Linked DNA regions of Homo sapiens: region 2 is linked to region 1. The links come from fine-mapping of genetic effects on gene expression. Tissue or cell type: whole blood. Region 1 holds a variant in brackets; the other region holds the start of a gene. All regions are shown on one strand. Distances are between the middles of the regions.

Evidence for each region. PIP is the estimated chance that this variant, and not a neighbour inherited with it, causes the effect.
Region 2: CLDN23 starts here. The variant in region 1 is fine-mapped to the expression of CLDN23 in whole blood (TOPMed, PIP above 0.99).

Annotation. Positions count from the first base shown.
Region 1 is chr8:8,730,001-8,740,689 of GRCh38, reverse strand. No RefSeq gene overlaps it. Among named protein-coding and RNA genes, the nearest start is that of CLDN23, 33 kb to the right of the region's middle. RefSeq lists an enhancer at 3,689-4,190. The variant A/G (reference allele first, on the strand shown) is at 6,960.
Region 2 is chr8:8,697,733-8,708,421 of GRCh38, reverse strand. CLDN23 (claudin 23) reads right to left here and starts at 6,485. Exons shown (of 1, transcript NM_194284.3): 1 at 4,326-6,485. The coding sequence starts at 6,023. The coding sequence ends at 5,145. RefSeq lists an enhancer at 5,692-6,659 and a silencer at 6,133-6,752.

The DNA of each region.
Region 1 (10,689 bases):
ATATGGCTAGCCAGTTATTCTGGCACCATTTATAAAATAGGGAGTGCCTTCTGCATTGCTTATTTTTGCTGACTTTGTCAAATATCAGATGGTTGTAGGTGTGCAGCTTTATTTCTGGATTCTCTATTCTGTTTCATTGGTCTATATGTCTGTTTTTATACCAGTACCATACTGTTTTCGTTACTGTGGCCTTATAGTATAGTTTGAAGTTGGGTAATATGATGTCTCCAATTTTTTTTGCTTAGGCTTGCTTTGGCTAATCAGGCTTTTTTGTAGGGGGAGGCTCTATGAATTTTAAAATCGGTTTTTCTAATTTTATGAATAGTGACATTGATAATTTGATAGGAATAGTACTGAATCTGTAAATTTCTTTGGGCAGTATGGCCATTTTTATGATATTGATTCCTTCAATCCATGATCATAGAATGTTTTTCCATTTGTTTGTGTCATCTATGATGTCTTTCAGCAGTATTTTGTAGTTCTCCTTGTAGAGATTTTTTACCTCCTTGGTTAGATGTATTCCTAGGTATTTTGTTTTTTTGGTGGCTACTATAAATGGGATTGTGTTCTTGATTTGGATCTCAGCTTGAATGTTATTGGTGTATAGAAATGCTACTGAATTTTTGCACATTAATTTTGTATCCTGAGACTTTACCGAGGTTGTTTATTGGTTCTAGGAGCCTTTTGGTGGAGTCTTCAGGCTTTTCTAGGTATAGAATCATTAAATCTATGAAGAGAGATAATTTGACTTATTTTCTTGTTTGGATGCCTTTTATGTCTTTCTCTTGCCTGATTGCTCTGGATAGAAATTCCAGTACTATATTTAATAGGAGTGGTGAGAGTAGGCAACTCTATCTTGTACCTGTTCTTAAAAGGAATGCCTCCAGCTTTTGCCCATTCACTGTGATGCTGGCTGTGGGTTTGTCATAGATGGATGGCTCTTATTATTTTGAAGTATATTCCTTTGATATCCAGTTTGTGGAGGGCTTTTTTTTTTTTTTATCATGTCCTCTGCTTCTATCCGTCAAGCCAAGGGAATCATCTCTTCTGGGGTTGAAAACTGGGTCAGCAGCATTTTTCTAAAATCTATTACTCATACCAGAGCCTTGGCTTTTGCTCTGTGCTTTGCATGTATTACCTCAATTCTTAGAAGTCTATGATATAGAAACAATGCACAGAAAGATTAACTGGTTTGCTAAATGCCATACAGCATGTAAGTGTGAAGCTGGAATTTGAATATACTTGATCACACTTCAGAAATTATACTTTGTTTTTTTTTTTTTTTTTTTGAGATAGTCTGCTCTGTCACTGAGGCTGGAGTGCAGTGGCATGATCTTGGCTCTCCGAAACCTCCACCTCCCAGGTTCAAGCGATTCTCCTGCCTTAGCCTCCCGAGTAGCTGGGATTACAGGCACCTGCCACCACGCCTGGCTAATTTTTGTATTTTTAATAAAGATGGGGTTTAACTCTGTGGGCCAGGCTGGTCACGAACACCTGACCTCAAGTGATCTGCCCACCTTGGCCTCCCAAAGTGCTGGGATTACAGGTGTGAGCTACTGCACCTGGCCTTGGAAATTACACTCTTATCCACTCCTTGGAATCATCATTGACTTTCTCTTTTAGGGTAGGTTTTGTTTCCTCAATTAACTTTTAATAATTTTAGGAACAGATGATCCAATAAGGATTTATTTAATCTGTAAAATCACTTTATATAGAAGCTGGAGATATATTATTTGGACTTAAGAAAACATCTTTTTACCTACCCTAGAAGACAAAACACAGAAATGTTTTTTACCTGCCTAGGGTCATCACTACGTCTTTGATCTGGAAGATCTTTAAGGGAGAATAATCTGACTTAGAGGCTTATTCAATCACTTGCCATGAGGCAGAGGTTGAAGTAAGAGGGCTCTGAATCCTTTTAGCTGAGTCTGTGGAGTCTGGGAGTTCACTAGGCATCAAAGGAATATACCTCAAAATATTGAGAGCCGTCCATTTATGACAAACTCACAGACAACATCGTAGTGAATGGGCAATGTTATGTTGCTCAGGTTGAGTGCAGTGGCTATTCCCAGGCATGATCATGGCTCACTGCAGCCTTGAACTCCTGGGCTCAAGCAATCCTCCTGCCTCAGCCTCTCGAGTAGCTGGGACTACAGGCGTGAACCACTGCACCTGGATTTTAGTCTATGGATTCTGAGTGGCCAAGAGATTTTATCAAACAATAGCCTTGAAAATTGTATGGGTACACACATAAAGTGGATTTGGGGAGGGGCTTTCCTCTCCAAATGTGTACGTATTTATATGTCTCTACAGGGATATGTAAACATGTAGTACAAAGCATAATGTTTATTATATGTTTTAACTTGATAAGTGGGGATTACTGAGAGGAATGTGAAGAAAAAACAAAGACAGGGTGAAGACAAGCAAAGGAAAAGAAAAAAAAAAAAACTGCCCTGAACCTTCCCTCAGTGATGTATAATACAATCAAATTAATGCATTTAAAGTTACATTATTTAAATGAAATTGAAAACATAAACTTGAAAGAAATAGAAAGAACAATGAAAAGAAAGGCTTTCATTGCCTGTGGGTAAATTCTTTGTAGTTTTTGTGAAAAAGGATTCTGAAGAAGAAAAAACAGAAACTGACTTCAGATTAGTGCTGTTAGGTGACATCATACCCACAGCACACCCCGGGTTCCCCTTATGTCCCTGTGGATGCAGGTACTCTATTGTATCTTGATATGGTTTGGGTGGCTTGCAGGAGCATGTTGGAATAAATGAATGAATGAATGAACGAATGGAAGTATCTTTACCAAGAAGAAGAGCTCATTGAAGCTATTGTGGCCATTTAGTATGGGCACTTACTAATTTTTCTTCCGAAGAATTTAGTAGTTTCATGTGGTCAGTTGCTGTAGATTTTTTGGGAGTTGGACATTGATACCAACAGGAAAATACAGCATGAAAGTAACACATTTTACCCTTCTTCAAGGAAGGTTGTTCAAGTTGCTCGGCAATGGGGTTGATTTTTCCATGAATAAATCAAGGATGTCACACTCTGAAGAGTTGTTGAGTTTGAACTGCAAGATTTGGGTTTAATCCCAGAATCTATCATTTACTAGTTGTATTTTTTGGACAAGTTATTTGGTTTCTCTGAAACTCGGTTTGTTTCCTTGTCTGTAAAAAGAGGTGATGAGAGTTATTATCTCATAGTATTGTTGTGAATAATAAATGAGATAATGCATGGGGAAGATGCCGGGCACATAGGATGCATGGAATAAATGTGGGTGTTTGCAGTGAGAAGTGATGAATTTCCAGGCTGGAAAGATGGCATGATTCTGGGATTCCATGCTCAGTGGTCATCTCAGGGTCCGGCAAGGGAAGATATTCCTGGTGAGAATTAATTGCTTTACCGCTGTCCCTTATATGTAGAGGACGTGTCCCTGTAGCTCCTGTCTGGGGATACTTGCCATATTCATGGAGGCTGGATACTTACTTTGGTTCCTTGGGCAATTTGCAACGTAGACGCTATTTAAGGGACCTTTTGGTATGAGTCAAAAGTGGCATTAAGGGCAAAGTGTGCTGCCCAGATTGAGCCTGTAGGTGGCAGCAAAAACTCAGACTTGGAAAGCCAGCCCACAAAGCTCCAGGTGTATCCTAGAGGGTTCTGCTTTTAGTGGTTTATGGAAAAGACCTGGAAGCTGTAAGCAGCTGTAATTTTAGTGGCGTCAACACACCATTCACAGCTGTAGTCTTTTCTCCAGGGTGAGTAGAGATGTCTCAGATCATTAGAACAAACTTCAGAAAAATCACGTATGCACGTTTCTATACGTTAAAAAAAAAATCAGAACCGTCTTCTCGGCAATAGGAAATTAGGCTGTTAGTGAGAGACCGCCCCCAGATGATGACCAATGAAACCATCATTAATGCCATTTATGCTGGAACAAAGGGGTGGACTGGGTTGTTAAGGAAACGTGGCACACCCTCCTCGGGGTAGAAAGAAAATAGGGAGGTATCAAATGATTTCTCATCACCTGCAAACTCATGTGGCTCTCCTACAGCTGATAGCAAAGTCACTGCTTTTGAATTTCATTTTATTTAAATTATTTGGTTTGCCTGTGCTTGGTATCTCTGCCTATCCCTTAAGTTTCAAATTTTCTGTCAAAAGTTTTACATGTGTGTCTTGTAGGAAGCATATAGTTTGGTATTATGTCTTAATCCGTTCTGAGAGTCCTTATCATCTAATACTGGTGTTCAATCCGTTCACATTTCTCCCTGTATCTCATGGATTTGATTTCACATCTTCTTATTACTTTGCATTTTACTATTTATTATACCTATTGTTGTTCATGCTTTTCTCCTTTTCACATTTCTTCCAGATTAATCAGGACATTAATTTAAAAAACTCTCTGTGTCCTTCTAAAATATAAAGCAATACAAATTTTACTATATATCTTCTGTATTTTAACTCATAGGGTTAGAAGTCTCTGTGAATATGTGACTATACTAAAATAGTCACTCTGACTCTCTAAAGATTCATCATCATTCCTATTCCCCACCAACTACGACATTGAGAAGACATTCACTTTCCCCATGGGTCTCCCATTCCTAACCTCTATATTTTATTAATGAAGTTAAGAATTGAGTTATGGATAATTTTTATAACTTTTTTCTTTTTTGAGATGGAGTCTTGCTCTGTCGCCCAGGTTGGAGTGCAGTGGCACGATCTCGGCTCACTGCAGCTTCTACCTCCCGGGTTCAAGTAATTCTCCTGCCTCAGCCTCCAGAGTAGCTGGGATTACAGGCGCACACCACCACACCTGGCTAACTTTTGTATTTTTAGTAGAGATGGGGTTTCACCATGCTGGCCAGGCTGGTCTTGAACTCCTGGCCTCAAGAGATCCACCCACCTCAGCCTCCCAAAGTGTTAGGATTACTGGTGTGAGCCACCACACCTGGTCAATTTTTATAACATTTTTGAAAACACTTTATAATTAGTAAAATACAATAGTACAAAGAATACTGGTAATGCCCTTTACTCAGATTTACCTGTTATTAATATGTTATAACATTTGCTCTATTCATTTGCTTTCTCTCTGTACACACACACACGCACACACACATACACATGTGTGTGATTATTTTCAGAACCATTTGAGGGTAAGGTACGTATATCATGGCTGTTATCCCTAAACACTTCAGTGTGTACTTCCTAAGAAGAGTGACATTCTCTTACATATCCATAGTATAGTTACAGATTTCATAAATTTCTATTAATGTCATATTTTTATCTAATCTATGGCCCATATTCATGTCTTGTTGGTTGACCTAATAATGTCTTTCACAGGACTCCTCACTGCTCTCCAGGGAGGATCCAGGCCAGGGTTAAATATCACATTTAGTTGGCATGTCTCTTTAGCCTCCTTTGACCTGCAACTCCCCACAGCCTTTCTTAGTCTTTTATGACATCAATAGTTTTTAGGCATACATTCCCCTCTGACATTTTAAAAACAGAATGTTGTTTCGTTTGCATTTTTCTGATGATTCTATTGTGATTAGATTCAGGTTACACATTCTCATGAAGGGATTTTGTGTCTTCTTCAGGACATTCTATCTGGAGGCATGCAGCATCCACTGCCCTTCATGAACCATGTTAATTTTGATCCCCTACGCAGGTTGTGTCCCTGATAATTTTAATTGTTTCTGATATTTATCTGATGTGAATGTAGCCATTCTAGCTTTCTTTTAATTAGTATTTGCATAATGTATGCTTTCCATCCTTTCATTACATTTATCACATTTTAAAATATCAATGTCATTGCATTTAAAGTGGATTACTTACAGAAGGCATATAGTTGGGTCTTTTTGTAAAATGCATGTTTATAAATTTCTGTCTTTTAATTAGTTTGTTTAGATCACATCTTAGTCTGCTGGGTTTTTATAACAAAACACCATAAACTAGGTGGCTTATAAACAACATAAATTTATTCTTCAGAGTTCTAGTGGCTGGGAAGTCCAAGATCCAGGTGCTGGCAGATGCAAAGTCTGGTGAGAGCCCACTTTCTGGCTCACATGGTGGGAGGGGCAGGGCAGTTCTCTGGGACCTCTTTTATAAGGGTATTAATCCCATTCATGAGGGCTCTGGTCTTCATGACCTAATCACCTTCCAAAGGCCCCGTCTCCTAATATCATGACTTTGGTGATTGAGGCTCAACATATTAATTTTGGGGAGATGCAAACATTCAGATTATAACCAATTAGTATAATTTAATGTAATTATTTAAATGGTTAAACTTAGGTCTATCATTTTATTATTTGTTTCCTGTTTGCTTTATACGAAAAAAAGAAAAAACAAACCCTGGCAGGGGTGAAGGTTAATAAACACGTAAACCATACATGTGCAGGGGAATTGATCCATTAAGTAAATGCATGGCAGATGGTGGGAGCTAGTTTTCTCACTGTTGGAGTGAGATGTTACAGATAAGCAAGGGGAAAATGCTAGGATGATCCATATGGTAATGGATTAGAGATGCAGACATGACATTAGTATGAATTCATTTTGTTTAATACAAATACAGATGGTTGTAGATGGAAACATTGATAGATATATGTATATATAGGGGTTAGTATACACACATATGTTTCTTTGCTCTATCATCTGAGAAGGCCTGTAAGCAATAACCTGCCAGTGCAATGGGCATATGTTGCGTCCAGATCTTGATTTCGAATCCCATTCTCCAATAAAAGGAACTAGGGCTTCCTGAGAAATGGCTGATTCTAGGGCTTGAGCAGGAAATATACAAGATGAGCCTGGAGGCTGGGTGTGATGGCCCACGCCTGTAACCCCAGCACTTTGGGAGGCCGAGGTGTGTGCATCACCTGAGGTCAGGAGTTCAAGACCAGCCTGGACAACATGGTGAAAACCCATCGCTACTAAAAATACAAACAAACAAACAAACAAAA[A/G]AGCTGGGCATGGTGGTGGGCGCTTGTAATCTCAGCCACTTGGGAGGCTGAGGCAGGAGAATTGCTTGAACCTGGGAGGCGGAGGTCGCAGTGACCCGAGATCACGCCACTGCACTTCAGCCTGGGTGACAGAGTGAGAGTCCATCTAAAAAAAAAAAAAAGAAAAATAAAAAAACAAGATGAGAGTGGAGTATCTTGTAGCATCAGAAAGTGAGGAAATGCTCAAAGAACAGCAATAACAGTAACATTAATGAAGATATGTCAAAAGACTGCAGGAGCACTCTCAAAGGTCAACTTGAGCAACAGTTTTTCTTCTCATATTCATTTTTAAATTTTCATTCATTTTTATTGTAGTGCTTAAAAATATTACAAGATTAGAACAAATCTTTTTTCAAGTCAGTCTTGGAGTATACAAAAATATTAGTCATCTCTCTACCTTCTAATACCACATAGCGAAGAATGGATGTTAACAGCTGATGCATCTTTTTACATTTCTTTAAACTTTTATTTTAGATTCAAGGGTATATGTGCAGGTTTGTTACATAGGTAAACTCATGTCATGGGGGTTTGGGGTACAGATTATTTTGTCACCCAGGTACTAAGTATAGTACCCAATGGTTATTTTTCCTGATCCTTTCCCTCTTCCCACCCTTCACCACCAACATGCTTTCATGTCATGACCATAGCGAAAGGTGCACATAGAGAAAGTATCATTCCCTCCCAGGTTCCTCCTATCCATTTCCTGCTCTCCTCCACTCCTTGTAGGAAATCCACTTCTTTGATATCTGGTTTATCTTTCCTGCGTTTCTTTTTATAAAGATAAGTAGAGAAATGTATGTGTTCTTATTTTTCTTTCTTCTTACATGAAGGTAACATAAATATATGTTTGTTTGCAGTTTGATTATTTTTCACTTACAGTAATAATGTCACCAATTCCAGGTCATTAAAATTTTTTCCTTATAAGATATTTATTTTTCTGTTTCAAAAGCATTTATTATCACTCAGAGTTTACAATTATATTATTTGGGATATAACTGTAGGAAAGTGTCAGATAGGAAAATTGTTTCTTTTTTCTCTTTTTTTTTTTTTTTTTTTTTTTTTTGAGATAGGGTCTCGCTCTATTGCCAAAGCTGAAGTACAGTGGCATGACCCCGGCTCACTGCAACCTCCACCTCCCAAGCTCAAGCCTCATGCCTCAGCTTCCCAAGTAGCTGGAACTACAGGTGCACACCAACATGTTGGCTAATTTTTGTATTTTTTGTAGAGATGGGGTTTCACCATGTTGGCCAGGCTGGTCTCAAACTCCTGGCCATAAGTGATATGGCTGCCTCAGCCTCCCAAAAAGGAACAATTAACACTTGTGTGATGAGGTAGGACCCACAGGGAGAGTACAGACGCCTAGGTGTGCCACAGCAGAGACTTCACTCCAGAGTGTGATGGAACAGAGTGCGGGAGAGACTGCCAAAATTGGGAAGGAGAGAGTAGTGGAGAGTAGTCAACTTAAGAGGCTCAATGGCCTTCTTGAGAGGCACATGGCCAGCCCGGGAGACTTTGCCAGATGGTGAATGAAGACTCTGACCTCACTCTTCCCTTCCTTGAGACTCCTGATGGGGCTCCTCAGTGTCTGAACCCAGTGGTAGCCAGAGGACACAGGGCCTCATTGAAGAGTCCATGTCTGTCAGTCTCCCAGGCAGGGCGGGGAAGACAGAAGGTGACCTTCACACACTTTTGCAGTATCTAATGAAATTGTACTTTTTACAAGAATATATATTCCATTCCCAGTATTCTGTATTCTTATTTTGCTTCCCTGTCATTAAATCTTAGAATTGAATTAATCTTTACTTTCTTTTTGAGCATTTTGTGATTTTCTTTGTAGTGGTACAACAATGATCAACTTCTGAATTCTTGAAAGTCTAAAAATATCCTTTTTTTTTTTTTTTAAATGAGACAGAGTCTTGCTCTGTTGTCCAGGCTGGAATGCAGTGCCATGATCTCAGCTCACTGCAACCTCCAGCTCCTGGATTCAAGCGATCCTCCCACCTCAGCCTCCAAAGTAGTTGAGATTAGAAGCATGTGCCACCATCCCTGGCTAATTTTTGTATTTTTAGTACAGATGGGTTTTCGCCATGTAGCCCAGGCTGGTCTTGAACTCCTGACCTCAGGTGATCCACCTGCCTTGGCCTTCGGAAGTGTTGGGATTACAGGTGTCAGCCACTGCACCTGGCCTAAAAATAGTCTTCTTTTGCACTCATATTTGAACATGATGCATCTGTACAGGATTCTCAGCCCATGGGAAATAAGACTATCAATAGAAACTTCCATGTTTCTTTCTATCGAAAGTCTGAAATGAGAAGTTTGGTGCTAGCCTGGATTCTCTTCCTATTCAAGAACTCGTTTTCTCTGTCTAACATGTTGTACAGCTTGAGGGTCCCTAATCCGAGTATGCAAAATCTGAAAGGCTCCAATATCTGAAACTTTTTGAGTACCAACATGACTCCACAAGTAAAAAATTCCACACCTGACCTCATGTACAGAAAGTTTGTTTCAAGTACAAAGTTGTTAAAATAATGTATAAAATTACCTTCAGGCTATGTGTATCAGGTGTATATGAAACGTAAATGAATTTCATGTTTAGACTTGGTACCATCTCCAGGATATCTCATTATGCATATGCAAATATTCCAAAATCGGAAAAGATCAGAGATCTGAAACATTTCTGGTCCAAGCATTTAGGATTAGAGATACTCAATCTGTGTTTTCTCCATCCTCGGGGTTCAGAAATTTCAGTGATGTATGGCCGAGGATATCCAATCTCATTCATTTTGCTTGGGAATTAATGAACACTTTCTAACAGGAAACAAGTCTCTTCAGCTCAGGGAAGTTTTTCCTTCCTTCCTTCCTTCCTTCCTCCCTCCCTCCCTCCCTCCCTCCCTCCCTTCCTTCCTTTCTTTCTTTCTTCCTTTTTTTTTTCTTTTGAGATGGAGTTTTGCTCTTGTCACCCAGGCTGGAGTGCAATGGCGTGATCTCGGCTCACTACAACCTCCACCTCCCTGGTTCAAGTGATTCTCCTGCCTCAGCCTCCTGAGTAGCTGGGATTATAGGCACCTGCCACCTTGCCCAGCTAATTTTTGTATTTTTCTTAGAGACGGGGCTTCACCATGTTGCCCAGGCTGGTATTGAACTCCTGACCTCAGGTGATCCACCCACCTTGGCCTCCAAAGTGCTGGGATTACAGGTGTGAGCCACCGCAACTGGCTTTTTTTTTTTTTTTTTTTTTTGAGATGGAATCTCGCTCTGTCACCCAAGCTGGAGTGCAGTGGCACCATATTGGCTCACTGCAACGTCTGTCTCCCGAGTTCAAGCGATTCTCATGCCTCAGCTTCCTGAGTAGCTGGGATTACAGGTGCCTGCCACCAAACCCATCTAATTTTTGTATTTTTAGTAGAGACGGGGTTTTGTTATACTGGCCAGGCTAGTTTCAAACTCCTGACCTCAGGTGATCCGCCCGCCTCGTCCTCCCAAATTGCTGGGATTACAGGCATGAACCACCACACCCGGCCTCAGGGAAGTTTTCTTATGTATACATATGTGAACATTACCATTTCCTCATCAAGTGCTTTTTGTCCCTCTGAAACTGCTATTATTCGCAAAATTAAACTCCAGGCTAGGATCTCCATTCTTATCTCTTCTTTCATATTTTCTGTTTCCTTGTATTTTATTTGGTGTTCTC
Region 2 (10,689 bases), 32 kb after region 1:
GCAAAACAATGGAGAGTCATTTGGTACCTGTGAAAGGCATCTCCTGGCTTCCCAGGCTCTCAACCCAGCTTATTGGTCACATTGCTTTACAAGAGGGGCTGCTGGCTCACCTTGTCAGCGCCTTGGTATAACTTGGGCCACCAGTAGGACAAGAGTTAAATGGGTTCAATCAAGTCTTAAGCCATTCTCTCCATGTGCCACTGAAGAATCAAGTCCCCTTGTCAGCACTGTCCCCCCTGCTAAGCTCTGTCTATATTTTCCTTGATTTGAACAAATGAAACCTCATTTTCATGTGTTCAGTCCTGCTTAGTGGAGGACTATTCACACATGAAGTTGCTTATTTTTTGCTTACATGGTGGCTCACGCCTGTAATCCCAGCATTTTGGGAGGCTGAGGCAGGTGGATCTCCTGAGCTCAGGAGTTCGAGACCAGTCTGGGCAACATGGAGAAACACACTCTCTACAAAAAATGCAAAAAATTAGCCAGGCGTGGTGGTGTGTGCTTGTGGTCCCAGCTACTTGGGAGGCTGAGGTGGGAGAATCGCTTGAACCTGGGAGATTAAAGCTGCAGTGAGCCAAGATCATGCCACTACACTCCAGCCTGGGTGACAGAGGGAGACCCTGTCAAAAAAAAAAAAAAAAAAAAAAAGAAATTGCTTATTTTTGATTCTGGAAATGTTACCCCCCCAAAATCAGGGTTTGTTGGTCCGATGAATAACAAACCACGCTCCTTGAGAACGCAGGTGTGTGATCAATAGGAGTTTTATTACTTGGCACAAGGAAGAGGGGCACTGGGATTATTCTCCAAAGCAGTGTCTCCCAGAGGGAATGTGACAGGAGGGTTTTAAGGGGTAATGGAGACAGGAGGGACTGCGTCGCATGCCGAGGAGGGGTCCCAGTGGCACCAATGCAGTGAGTCCTCATGCCAGCACATAGGTCGCATGTGGTTGCTGCTGAAGCTGCTCTTCCCCTGGGGTGGAGACTATAGAATGGCCATGAGGAAAGTTCACCGAATTCATCTAAAAGTTGTTGGGGCCTGTCAGGAGCTGCTTTAACCTGCTGGGTGACCACGCAGGGTCTAGGAAGAAACAGACTGCAGGGCACGAGGCTGCAAAACAGGCTGATTGCTCAAGTTGATTAAATTCCTAGAATCCCCAGAGACCCTCCCTGTCTGCTTATGGAAATATTCTAGAAGACAGGGTGAATTTGTTCCAGATGGTATTCCCTCTGAAAGAATCTGTTAGCCTGGCAAAGAGTAGATGACAAGGTTGACTCAGGGTTACTCCGTTGTACCACCAGCTGCTTCTTGGCCTTACCACCCGATTCTAGAAAGAGAAGCAAAACTAGCTGGTAGTAAGACTGAGACGCCCACCTGTTTTCACATTTTCTCTAGTGGAAACTTGAAGTTGTTCCTTCTGCCTAAAAGGCTCCTCTCTCTCTTCTTTCAGTTCTCTGCCCAAGTACCTCCTTCTTCTTGACCACTTTTCCTAAAATATCACCTTTGGCCAGGTGTGGGAGCTTTCACCTCTAATTCCAGCACTTTGGGAGGCCAAGGTGAGAGGATCACTTGAGCTCAGGAGTTCGAGACCAGCCTGGGTGACATAGTGAGATTCTGTCTGTTTAAAAAAAAAAAAAATTAGCTGGGTGATGTGATGCATATCTGTGGTCCCAGCTACTTGGAAGGCTGAGGCTGGAGGATCCACTGAGGTTGGGAGGTTGAGGCTGCAGTGAGCCCTGATCATGTCACTGCACTTTAGCCTGGGTGACAGAGTGAGACCCTGTCTCCCAAAAACAAAACAAAAACAAAAAACACCTTTCTTCCTCCATCCCTTGATTTCTGGCTTAATCTTTTTCATTTTATTTGTACATGATCACAGGAGATTATTTAAGTTCCACACAGAATGGGCCTGGATGGTATTGTTTTTCATGGTGCCCACAAATGTGCTGGCAAAATGTCAGACGCTCAAAAACATACTGGGTGAACGATCTACACAATGAAGGGAAGGATGGTTGCCAAAGCACCCTGACAGCACCTCCCGCAGCCTCCACGGTGGAGAACCAGCTGTGTGCTCAAAGCCACACCCCTCCTTGGTGAGGGCGTGTGTCCAGATAAGAGCCAGATTGGCGAACGGGTAGAGCAGGGATGTGTTAAAGCAGTTTCTGCCTTACCTTCACAGAACTCACCGTCCTCCTGGCATCACTTGAGTAATCTAGAAAAGACTTCATCCATTCAATGGGGACTTATACTTCCTTTGGGGATTGGGAGGATTAAACATGAGTCTGGTAGGTCAGAGGGCTTGATACAAGACAGAAGTGCTTTGAGTGTGTTCTCTGTGGTGCAGTTGCTGGGCTGGTCAGTGGTAAGTTTAGGAAAAGTTTAGGATAAATTCTTGCCCACAGCAGCAACTCCTGAGACTTGCTGTGGCAGAGAATGACCCGCAGGGCAAACGTGGATCCCAGACTGATGCAGGACTCTCTTTCCATGCTCTCCTGAACCTTTTTTTTTTTTTTTTCTTTGAGACAGAGTCTCGCTCTGTCACCCAGGCTGGAGTGCAGTGGCACCATCTCGGTTCACTGCAAGCTCCGCCTCCCGGGTTCACGCCATTCTCCTGCCTCAGCCTCCCGAGTAGCTGGGACTACAGGCGCACGCCACCATGCCCGGCTAATTTTTTGTATTTTTAGTAGAGACGGGGTTTCACCATGTTAGCCAGGATGGTCTCGATTTCCTGACCTCGTGATGGGCCCACCTCGGCCTCCCAAAGTGCTGGGGTTACAGGCATGAGCCATCATGCCCGTTTTTTTTTTTTTTTTTTTTTTTTTTTTTTTTTAATTTAAGAGACAGTCTCGCTCTGTTGCCCAGGCTGGAATGCAGTGATGTGCTTTTAGTTCACTACTGCCTTGAACTCCTGGGCTCAAGTGATCCTGCTGCCTCAGCCTCCTAAGTAGCTAGGACTCTAGACATGTTGCCACTATGCCTGACTAACTTTTAAAAATTTTTTTGTAGACATGGGGTCTAGCTATGTTGCCCAGGCTGGTCTCGAACTCCTGGCCTCAAAGCATTCCTTCCACTTGGCCTCCCAAAGCACTGGGATTACAGGCTGTCTTGAATATTTCTATAGCAAAAAGGAGTTTGTATTTTTAAAGGAGGAGTTTTGGCTTCGTTCTCTTGATAGGGGAAAAGTAGAGTTTTAACTCCCAGCAACCGAATCCTAATCCTCAGGCAGGAAATGTTTTGCATATAAGGCAGTGGAGAATCATTGGGATGGGGAGAAAAGCAAAACACACAAAAGTTTTGTGTGTTTTTACCAAAGCTTCCCTGGAGATAGAATTATGATGCAGCCCAGACTCACCATTTGCCAGGAGCCCAGTACCTGTACGGTGTCTGCTAGGTGCTGACTTCTCAGGTCCCTAATTGCTGCCTTCGGAGGTGTTAGTGGAAAAGAGCCCTGTTGCACTTTCTCCCTTTTGGCTCTGTACCCTCGAGCAAGTCCCCAAGCGCATCTCGGTAGCAGGCACTCAAAGGTCTGAATATGAGCCACCAGTTGGGATTGAAATTTGAGTGAGACAGTCCCAGCGAAAGCCTTGCAACTCCAAGTGTGGTCCATGAGCCGGCAGCATTGGCATCTCCTGGAAGCCAGTTAGGAAATCTTTTCAGGGCCTCACTCCAGATCTACTGAATCAGAATCTGCATTTGAAAGAGATTCCAAAGTGATACCGCCTACACGTTAAAGCCTGGCTTCAGAAAGAGAGAAAGAAGTGATTCCAGTACCAAATGGCAAGGGAAGTGAATCTCTGTCATCCCTTCCACTCTAACAGGCAGCATGTGCTATTAAGTTAGCCTCACTATAGCTATTATCAGTGCTTGCTGAACTGAATGAATGTTCCTACCTCTGAACGGCAGGTTTTAAAGAAGAGATTCAGTTCGGTTAAAGGTACCCTTAAATCAACCACTTGGAATTGAAGCCAGCCCTGCTGGAGACCCAGTCCCCTTCATGGAACACATAGCTGCCTTCCTGTGATTCTAAACACCACTGCTACAAAGGAAAAGATTTCCAGTCTCACCTCAAGTGGAAACTGGTGCTTCTCGTTTTCTCAGCAATAGACTTGGCTTTGCACAGAAATGGCATGAACCTAAAACCAAAGCAATCAGGGACTTAAGTGGGGCCCGTTGGCTTTTTTTAGTAACCTTATGCTAAGAGGTGCAAAGATTTGAGTGCTAGATTTCAGACACAAGTGCCGAGGCAGCCAGGAAATTGTTAGTAATGAATGTTTAAACTCCCAAACGTTGTACTGAAGACAAAAGAGCTTTTGTGGCTATACTGAAACTATTGTTTTAAAATTTTATTTATAAATAAAAGATATATACATATGTGCTTTAATATGATTAACAGGTTCCATTTTGTACAAAATGTTAAACCTAGAGTCCTCTGCGTCCTGGATGAGGCGTCCAAAGGGTGGAATAGTACAGCATTAGGACCTTTGTTCTCCTCTTGGCTTCTGGAAGAGAAACTCTTGCATGCCCTCGACTTTCACCGCAAAAATAAGTGAGAAAAAAGATAAATCCCATTTATGCAATGATATGTAGCTATGAGTTAATCACGGTATTTCATTCCATGAAATCCATTAAGCTGCTGGCATTTGCATGGCTCTAAGTTTATTTTAAGAGGCTCATTCAAACATGGCCAGGAATATATTGGCCTCTTGAGAGTTTGCATGGCAAGGAGTTATACAGCAGGAAAAAGAAAAAAAACCCAATAATTATATTGATGCAAGATTCATCAGTATTTTAGAATATTGTCGTTTCAACATGTTAAATTGTTTCTGAGCACTGCTGATTTCAGCACTGTCCCTGGTCCACGTGACGCAAATGCCACCCTTTCCATATATTCTTCAGCAAAAATATATGAAAAGCCCGTCACTCCCTAAGAGGACCCTGATCCCTCTGGAGAGGAAAACTAAACTCTTTAAGAAGAAAACCAAACCCAACCTGAACTAATCGTCCAAGGAGTCCTGTTTGGTCCCACGAAAGGCAGATTTCCATCCACACCAGTGAGGGGCAAGTGTCCGGGTTCCAACTCGAAGCCAGGCGGGCCTGTGCGGGGGTGAGTCCTTTGCCACCCGGCGCCCCCCAGGCTCTACAAGCGTCTAGAGGTCGGAGTCGCAGGGCAGCGAGCTGTCGCAGGGGTGGGTGCTGCACGAGGGAGCGTCCTGGGACTCCCACCCCTCCCCGTCGAGGACGTCCACCGAGTTGGTGTAGGCCTTGGGCCGCGGCCGCGGCATGGGGAAGCCGACCTTGGGCTTGGGCTTGGGCTTGCGGTGCTGGGCAGGCGGCGGTCGGTGCTGGCCGTCGCTGTAGTACTTGATGGCGGGCGCCAGGTCGGGCTCGGGCCACTCCACTTGGATGGTGCTGACGCTGCTGCGGCGAGGCCCGGCGGAGGGTCCCTTGCGGCGGCGGCGACAACGCTCGTCGCACCAGGGCGCGAAGCTGAGCGCCAGCGAGAAGCCGCCCAGCAGCAGGAGGCAGCTGCCCAGGTAGCCCAGGACCAGGCTGTAGCTGACCTGCACCGTGACCGGGCTGGCCGGGGCGGGCAGCACGTCGCGGTCCCCCAAGAAGTGGTTGTACCAGGACACCGGGATGAGGCCGAGGAGGCCAGCGACGAAGAGCACGACGCCCGAGAGCCCTGCCAGCACGAAGTTGGGCTCGTCCTGCCAGCAGCGCACGCCCAGCGACGCCAGCAGAAGCCCCAGGACCGTGGCGGCCAGCGAGGTGACCATGAGTGCCCGCGCCACCAGCACGGGCTGGGCCTCGAAGTAGCCCCACTGGTCCGTCTGGCCGCACTCGCGCTCGCGGCTGCTCTGCTCGCGACACATGTCCCACAGGCCCTGGTACAACTCCACGTCCACTGGCTGGTTCAGGAAGCCCTTCACCAGCCGCCAGCCGGGCGCCAGGGTGCCGGTCAGGTTGAGCAGGAGCCCGCAGGGCGCCAACACCATGCCCAGCGTCATCACCACCGGCGTCCGCATCCCGGCCCGCCGCGCCGACGGCGCCCCTGCAGCCTGCCTTCCTTCTCCGCTGTCGCCTTCTCCGCCGTCGTCTTCTCCCTGCCGTGCCCCAGGCTCCGGGGACCCGAAGTCAGCGCGGACGCCCCGGGCTCCGGGTCGGGCTCCTGAGCCCTGATCGCTCCAGGGACGCTCTTTGTCTCCTGCACGGGGACCGTCCCCACTTAGGCTAGTTCCCTCCTGGCGTCCCGGCCGCTCCGCCCTCCTACTGGCCCTAATCGAAACCAGCCCGCGGGCGGGTCTGACCGAAACCGCGGGTCCGGGCGCGGGCGCCCAGGGGCGGCTGCCGCGGCCAAACCTGGCCCGGGAGGGAGGGACCCGAGGTGAGCGCAGGAAGCGGCGGGGCCACCTCGCCCGCGGCAGGTGAGATGGGGATCCGAGCGGCGGGGACACCCCACCTTGCAGCCGGGCGGCTGGGCCACGCCTGGCCTGGACTGCTCACGGCCGGAGCAAAGGTCGCCCCGCCCCTGGGTCCTCGCGCCGCCCCGCCGGGCCAGGCGGGCGGTGGGCGGGGAGGGAAAGAGGCGGCGCTGGCGGGACGCGGTGGCTGCGCAGCTTCCCTGCTGCTCAGCGGATCTCGGTTCCTAGAATTTGTTTCCGGTCCCTGCCCGTCGACCCTGCGCTTATAGCTTAGCCCTTTACTCCCAGAGGGTTCCAGATCGCCCCCTGGTTTGCTCTGCAACTTGCAGCCACTCGCAGAGAAGTGGGCGGTGCCGAGCGCTCCCGGGGATTGGAGGTGCGCTGGGTGAGTGTGCAGAAGCCCACCCAGTCCAGGAGCGTGTCCCAGAACGTTGCACCGGATTATTTCCTTAATAAAGGCTCCACACTCTGGATTAAATTCGTCTCTAAAGAATCTGTGCCAGTGTACTTCTGGGCAGAAGGGTTACACAAGGATTTTACTTTCCTTTTTCAGCCTTGTGAGACTTTCAAGGGGACTAGAAAGAGGGACCAGTGTTCCCGGATGTCCTGCTTAGCGTTTTTTGCAGGTTTATTTAATTTTACAGTGTACTGTGGCCTTTCTCGTCTGTAGGTTATTTTACAACTCTATAAATTATAGAAAGCCTGTAGTATTGCAAATGACTTTTGCCAACATCAAGGCTAATGAGTTCGTCCCAGTGGAATGATTATTGTCCAATGGATACTGACCAGTATGGCATTGATTTGTAAATTCATTTTAGCATTCCTGTTTGTCTGTATATGTGTGTCCTTTTGTTCTTTGCTTTTTTTTTTTCCTTTTTCTTTTATTTATTTATTTATTTATTTATTTATTTATTTATTTTAAACAGGGTTGGGGAGTTTCGCTGTGTTGCCCAGGCTGGTTGCAAACTCCTGGGCTCAGGTGAGTCTCCCGCCTCAGCCTCTGGAGTAGCTAGGACTGCAGGCAAGTGGCCAGCTTCTTTGGTTTTAACATCATACTGGTTTCCTTATTCAATAATGAGTTAAATAACCTCTTTCACACATATTCATTTTATATTTGTGTGAAAGTCACGATGTTTACATTTTTTCTAAAAATTATCCTTTAATAACACTTTTTTGTATTTTCTAGATTTTTACAATGAAAACGTATTGCCTTTATAATTGTTTAAAATTAAAACTATTTTTAAAATTCAAGTTAATTTAGCATTGGTTTGAAATAATTTTGAATATTCCAGAGTGGACAACACTAGGAATGACAGTGACTGCTTTTTTTAAAAGAATATTTTTAAATTAAAAAAAAAACCTGTGGTAACATATATGTAACATACAGTTGACCGTTGTAACCATCTTTAAGTGTACAGCTCATTGGTATGACATACATTCACATTGTTGTGATACCCTCACCACCATCCACTCCTGGGATTTTTTCCTCTTCCCAAACTGACACTGTACCCACTAAACACTAACTCTCCTTTCCTCCCTCCCTCACAGGCCCTGGTGATCACCATTCTACTTTTTTCTCTCTATAAATTTAACTACTTTAGGTACCTCATAGAACTGGAATCGGACCGTATTTGTCCTTTCGTGACTGGCTTATTTCACTGAGCTTAATGTCCTCCAGGTTCATCCATATTGTAGCATGTGTCAGAATGTCCTTCCTTTTGAAGGTTGAATGATATTCTATTGTGCATAAATACCACATTTTGTTTATCCAGTCTTCCATCCATAGACACTTAGATTGCTTTTACCTTTTGGCTATTGTGAATAATGCTGTTGCATCATTTATGTAATAGTGATATATACATCACTTTTAATTTTTTTTAATTAAAAAAATTTTTTTTGAGATGGAGTCTTGCTCTGCTGCCCAGCCTAGAGTGTGACGGCAAAATCTCGGCCCACTGCAACCTCTGGTTCCTGGGTTCAAGCAAGCAGTTCTCCTGCCTCAGCCTACCTAGTAGCTGGGATTATAGGCACCCACCACCATGCCCAGATAATTTTTGTATTTTTAGTAGAGACGGGATTTTACCTTGTTGCTCAGGCTGGTCTCGAACTCCTGACCTCAACTCATCTGCCAACCTTGGCTTCCCAAAGTGCTGAGATTACAGGTGTGAGCCACTGTGCCTGGCCTATGCATCATTTAAAATTTGTCTTGTTTCATTAACTGTGTGGTGATTAACTATCTAAAGCAGGAATCAGTCTGCCATCCCTCTCATACATGTCAGAAGGTATCATGTGTGACACTGCCACTTCATAAATGCTTCATGTGATTTGAATCCTCTTCCAACATAGTTTCGTTTTTGCTTAGATCTCTGTGGAATGAGTGAAGCCCAGGTGTTATTTACCTGTGGGGAGGAAGGGCATCCTGGGGGTTCTACCTCCTAAATCTGTCTTTCGTCCTTCCATGTCTCTTTCTTCTCTACTGCCTCTTCCCAGTACAGGCCATTCTCCCATCTTTCTCCTTAAGCTGCTAACTGGTCTCCTACACCGGGCTTTGTGGCTCCCTTTTTATTAGCCACACGAACCTCACAGCTGGCCTGCATCAACCCTTTACAAGACCATTCCCAGTCCCACCCAGCCCTGCATTCCAGCCCTGTCTCTCCCTCCCTGCCGCCTCATCTCCTCACATTATAACCCAAAGAAACTGGATTTCCCCCCACATTTTCCCCGAACATTGTGTGCCCTTTTGCTTCCAGACCTTTGCAAATGCCCTTCTCTTTTCCTAGTGCCCTGCCTATCACTTCCCCACTCCAGTGCATCCTTAGATCTTTGCTTAAGTGCCATTTTCTCTGGGAGGGTTTCCTCATCCCCTAGATGAAGTTAATTAATTTTTCCTTTCATATACTTCCGTGACACCCCTTCTGTCACACCACTTACCACAGTTCCTTAGTCCTTGAATCATTTTGTTTTCTAGCTGGTCTGGGAGTTCTCTGAGGGCAGGGACCACATAGATCTTGTTCTGTTCTGTCCTCCAAACACATCTTGGTGCCTGGGCCACCGCAGCCACTCAACAAATCAATATTATGTCTTTCTGCCCTGAGTTCTTCCACATAGTACCTACTGAATTTTCCAACAAATGACCGTCTGGCCAAAACAGATTGTGACATACATCTCAGTAAGCAGGTTGATTTGTTTGAATGTTTCTTTTTCCTTAGCATAGAAAACAATCTATCCCATACGAGTATGGGATAGCTCCAGATATTTACGACAAATAAGCGTAGGCCTGTGGGGCTCACTTTCTGCGACAATAGAGAAAGAAGTGACTGTGTTAAGCATAGCATCTGGGGATAGAGCTGACCTCTGTTCCCTGGCCTTCTGAGTTCATCTGAAGTCTGAGGGAGAAATAAAGCATGAGTCACTCTGTGGTAGGAATGAATGAATGATTGCTGACATTAGGACCTGGCTGTGTAAGTGGATACCCAGGTTCTACCACAGATTTCTTTTCTGAAGAAGGGCCCGGTAGTAATGCAAGAATCTGTTCACTATGCTGCAGCTTTTGAAATGAATAGTGAGCCCCCAGCAGTGAATTCTGAAGGGACTGATGCTGAGTCCCCTGTTTGCCTGCACTCTAGGCCTCTGCTACCACCTCGCACAAAGGTGCAACCTGCAACAGCTTCATCTTGGAAAGTCACATTACCAACTTTGGCTAGGACAGAGGGTCCACTAGATCATCAGTCCTCAAACTCTTTGGCACCAGGGACAGGTTTCATGGAAGGTAATTTTTCCATGGGGTTGTGGGGGTAAAGATGGTTTCGGGATGAAACTGTTCCATCTTGGATGATCAGGCAACCTAGATCCCTCGCATGTGCGGGTTACAATGGGGTTCACACTCCCATGAGAATCTAAAGCCACCACTGATCTGACAGGAGGTGGAGCTCAGGCAGTAATGCTTGCTCGCCCATGGCTCATCTCCTACTGTGTGGCCCAGTTCCTGACAGGCCACAGACTGGTACTGGTTGGTGGCCCAGGGGTTGGGGACCCCTGCACTAGATCACTTTGCCATAATAAGATGTCCTCAGATTCCCTCTGCCAGGTCTTTATTTTACTTTCTCCAAAGGCTATTTTCTCTTTTTCTTCCTGGAACTCTGAACACCCTTTCCTGTGTTTGCTAAGCGATAAGACAATTTTGTTCACAATGTTATACTATGAGAATTCTGAATAGGAGTGAGAAATGAACTCCACTGATAATCATCCTATGGTAAATCTACTTCAGTGA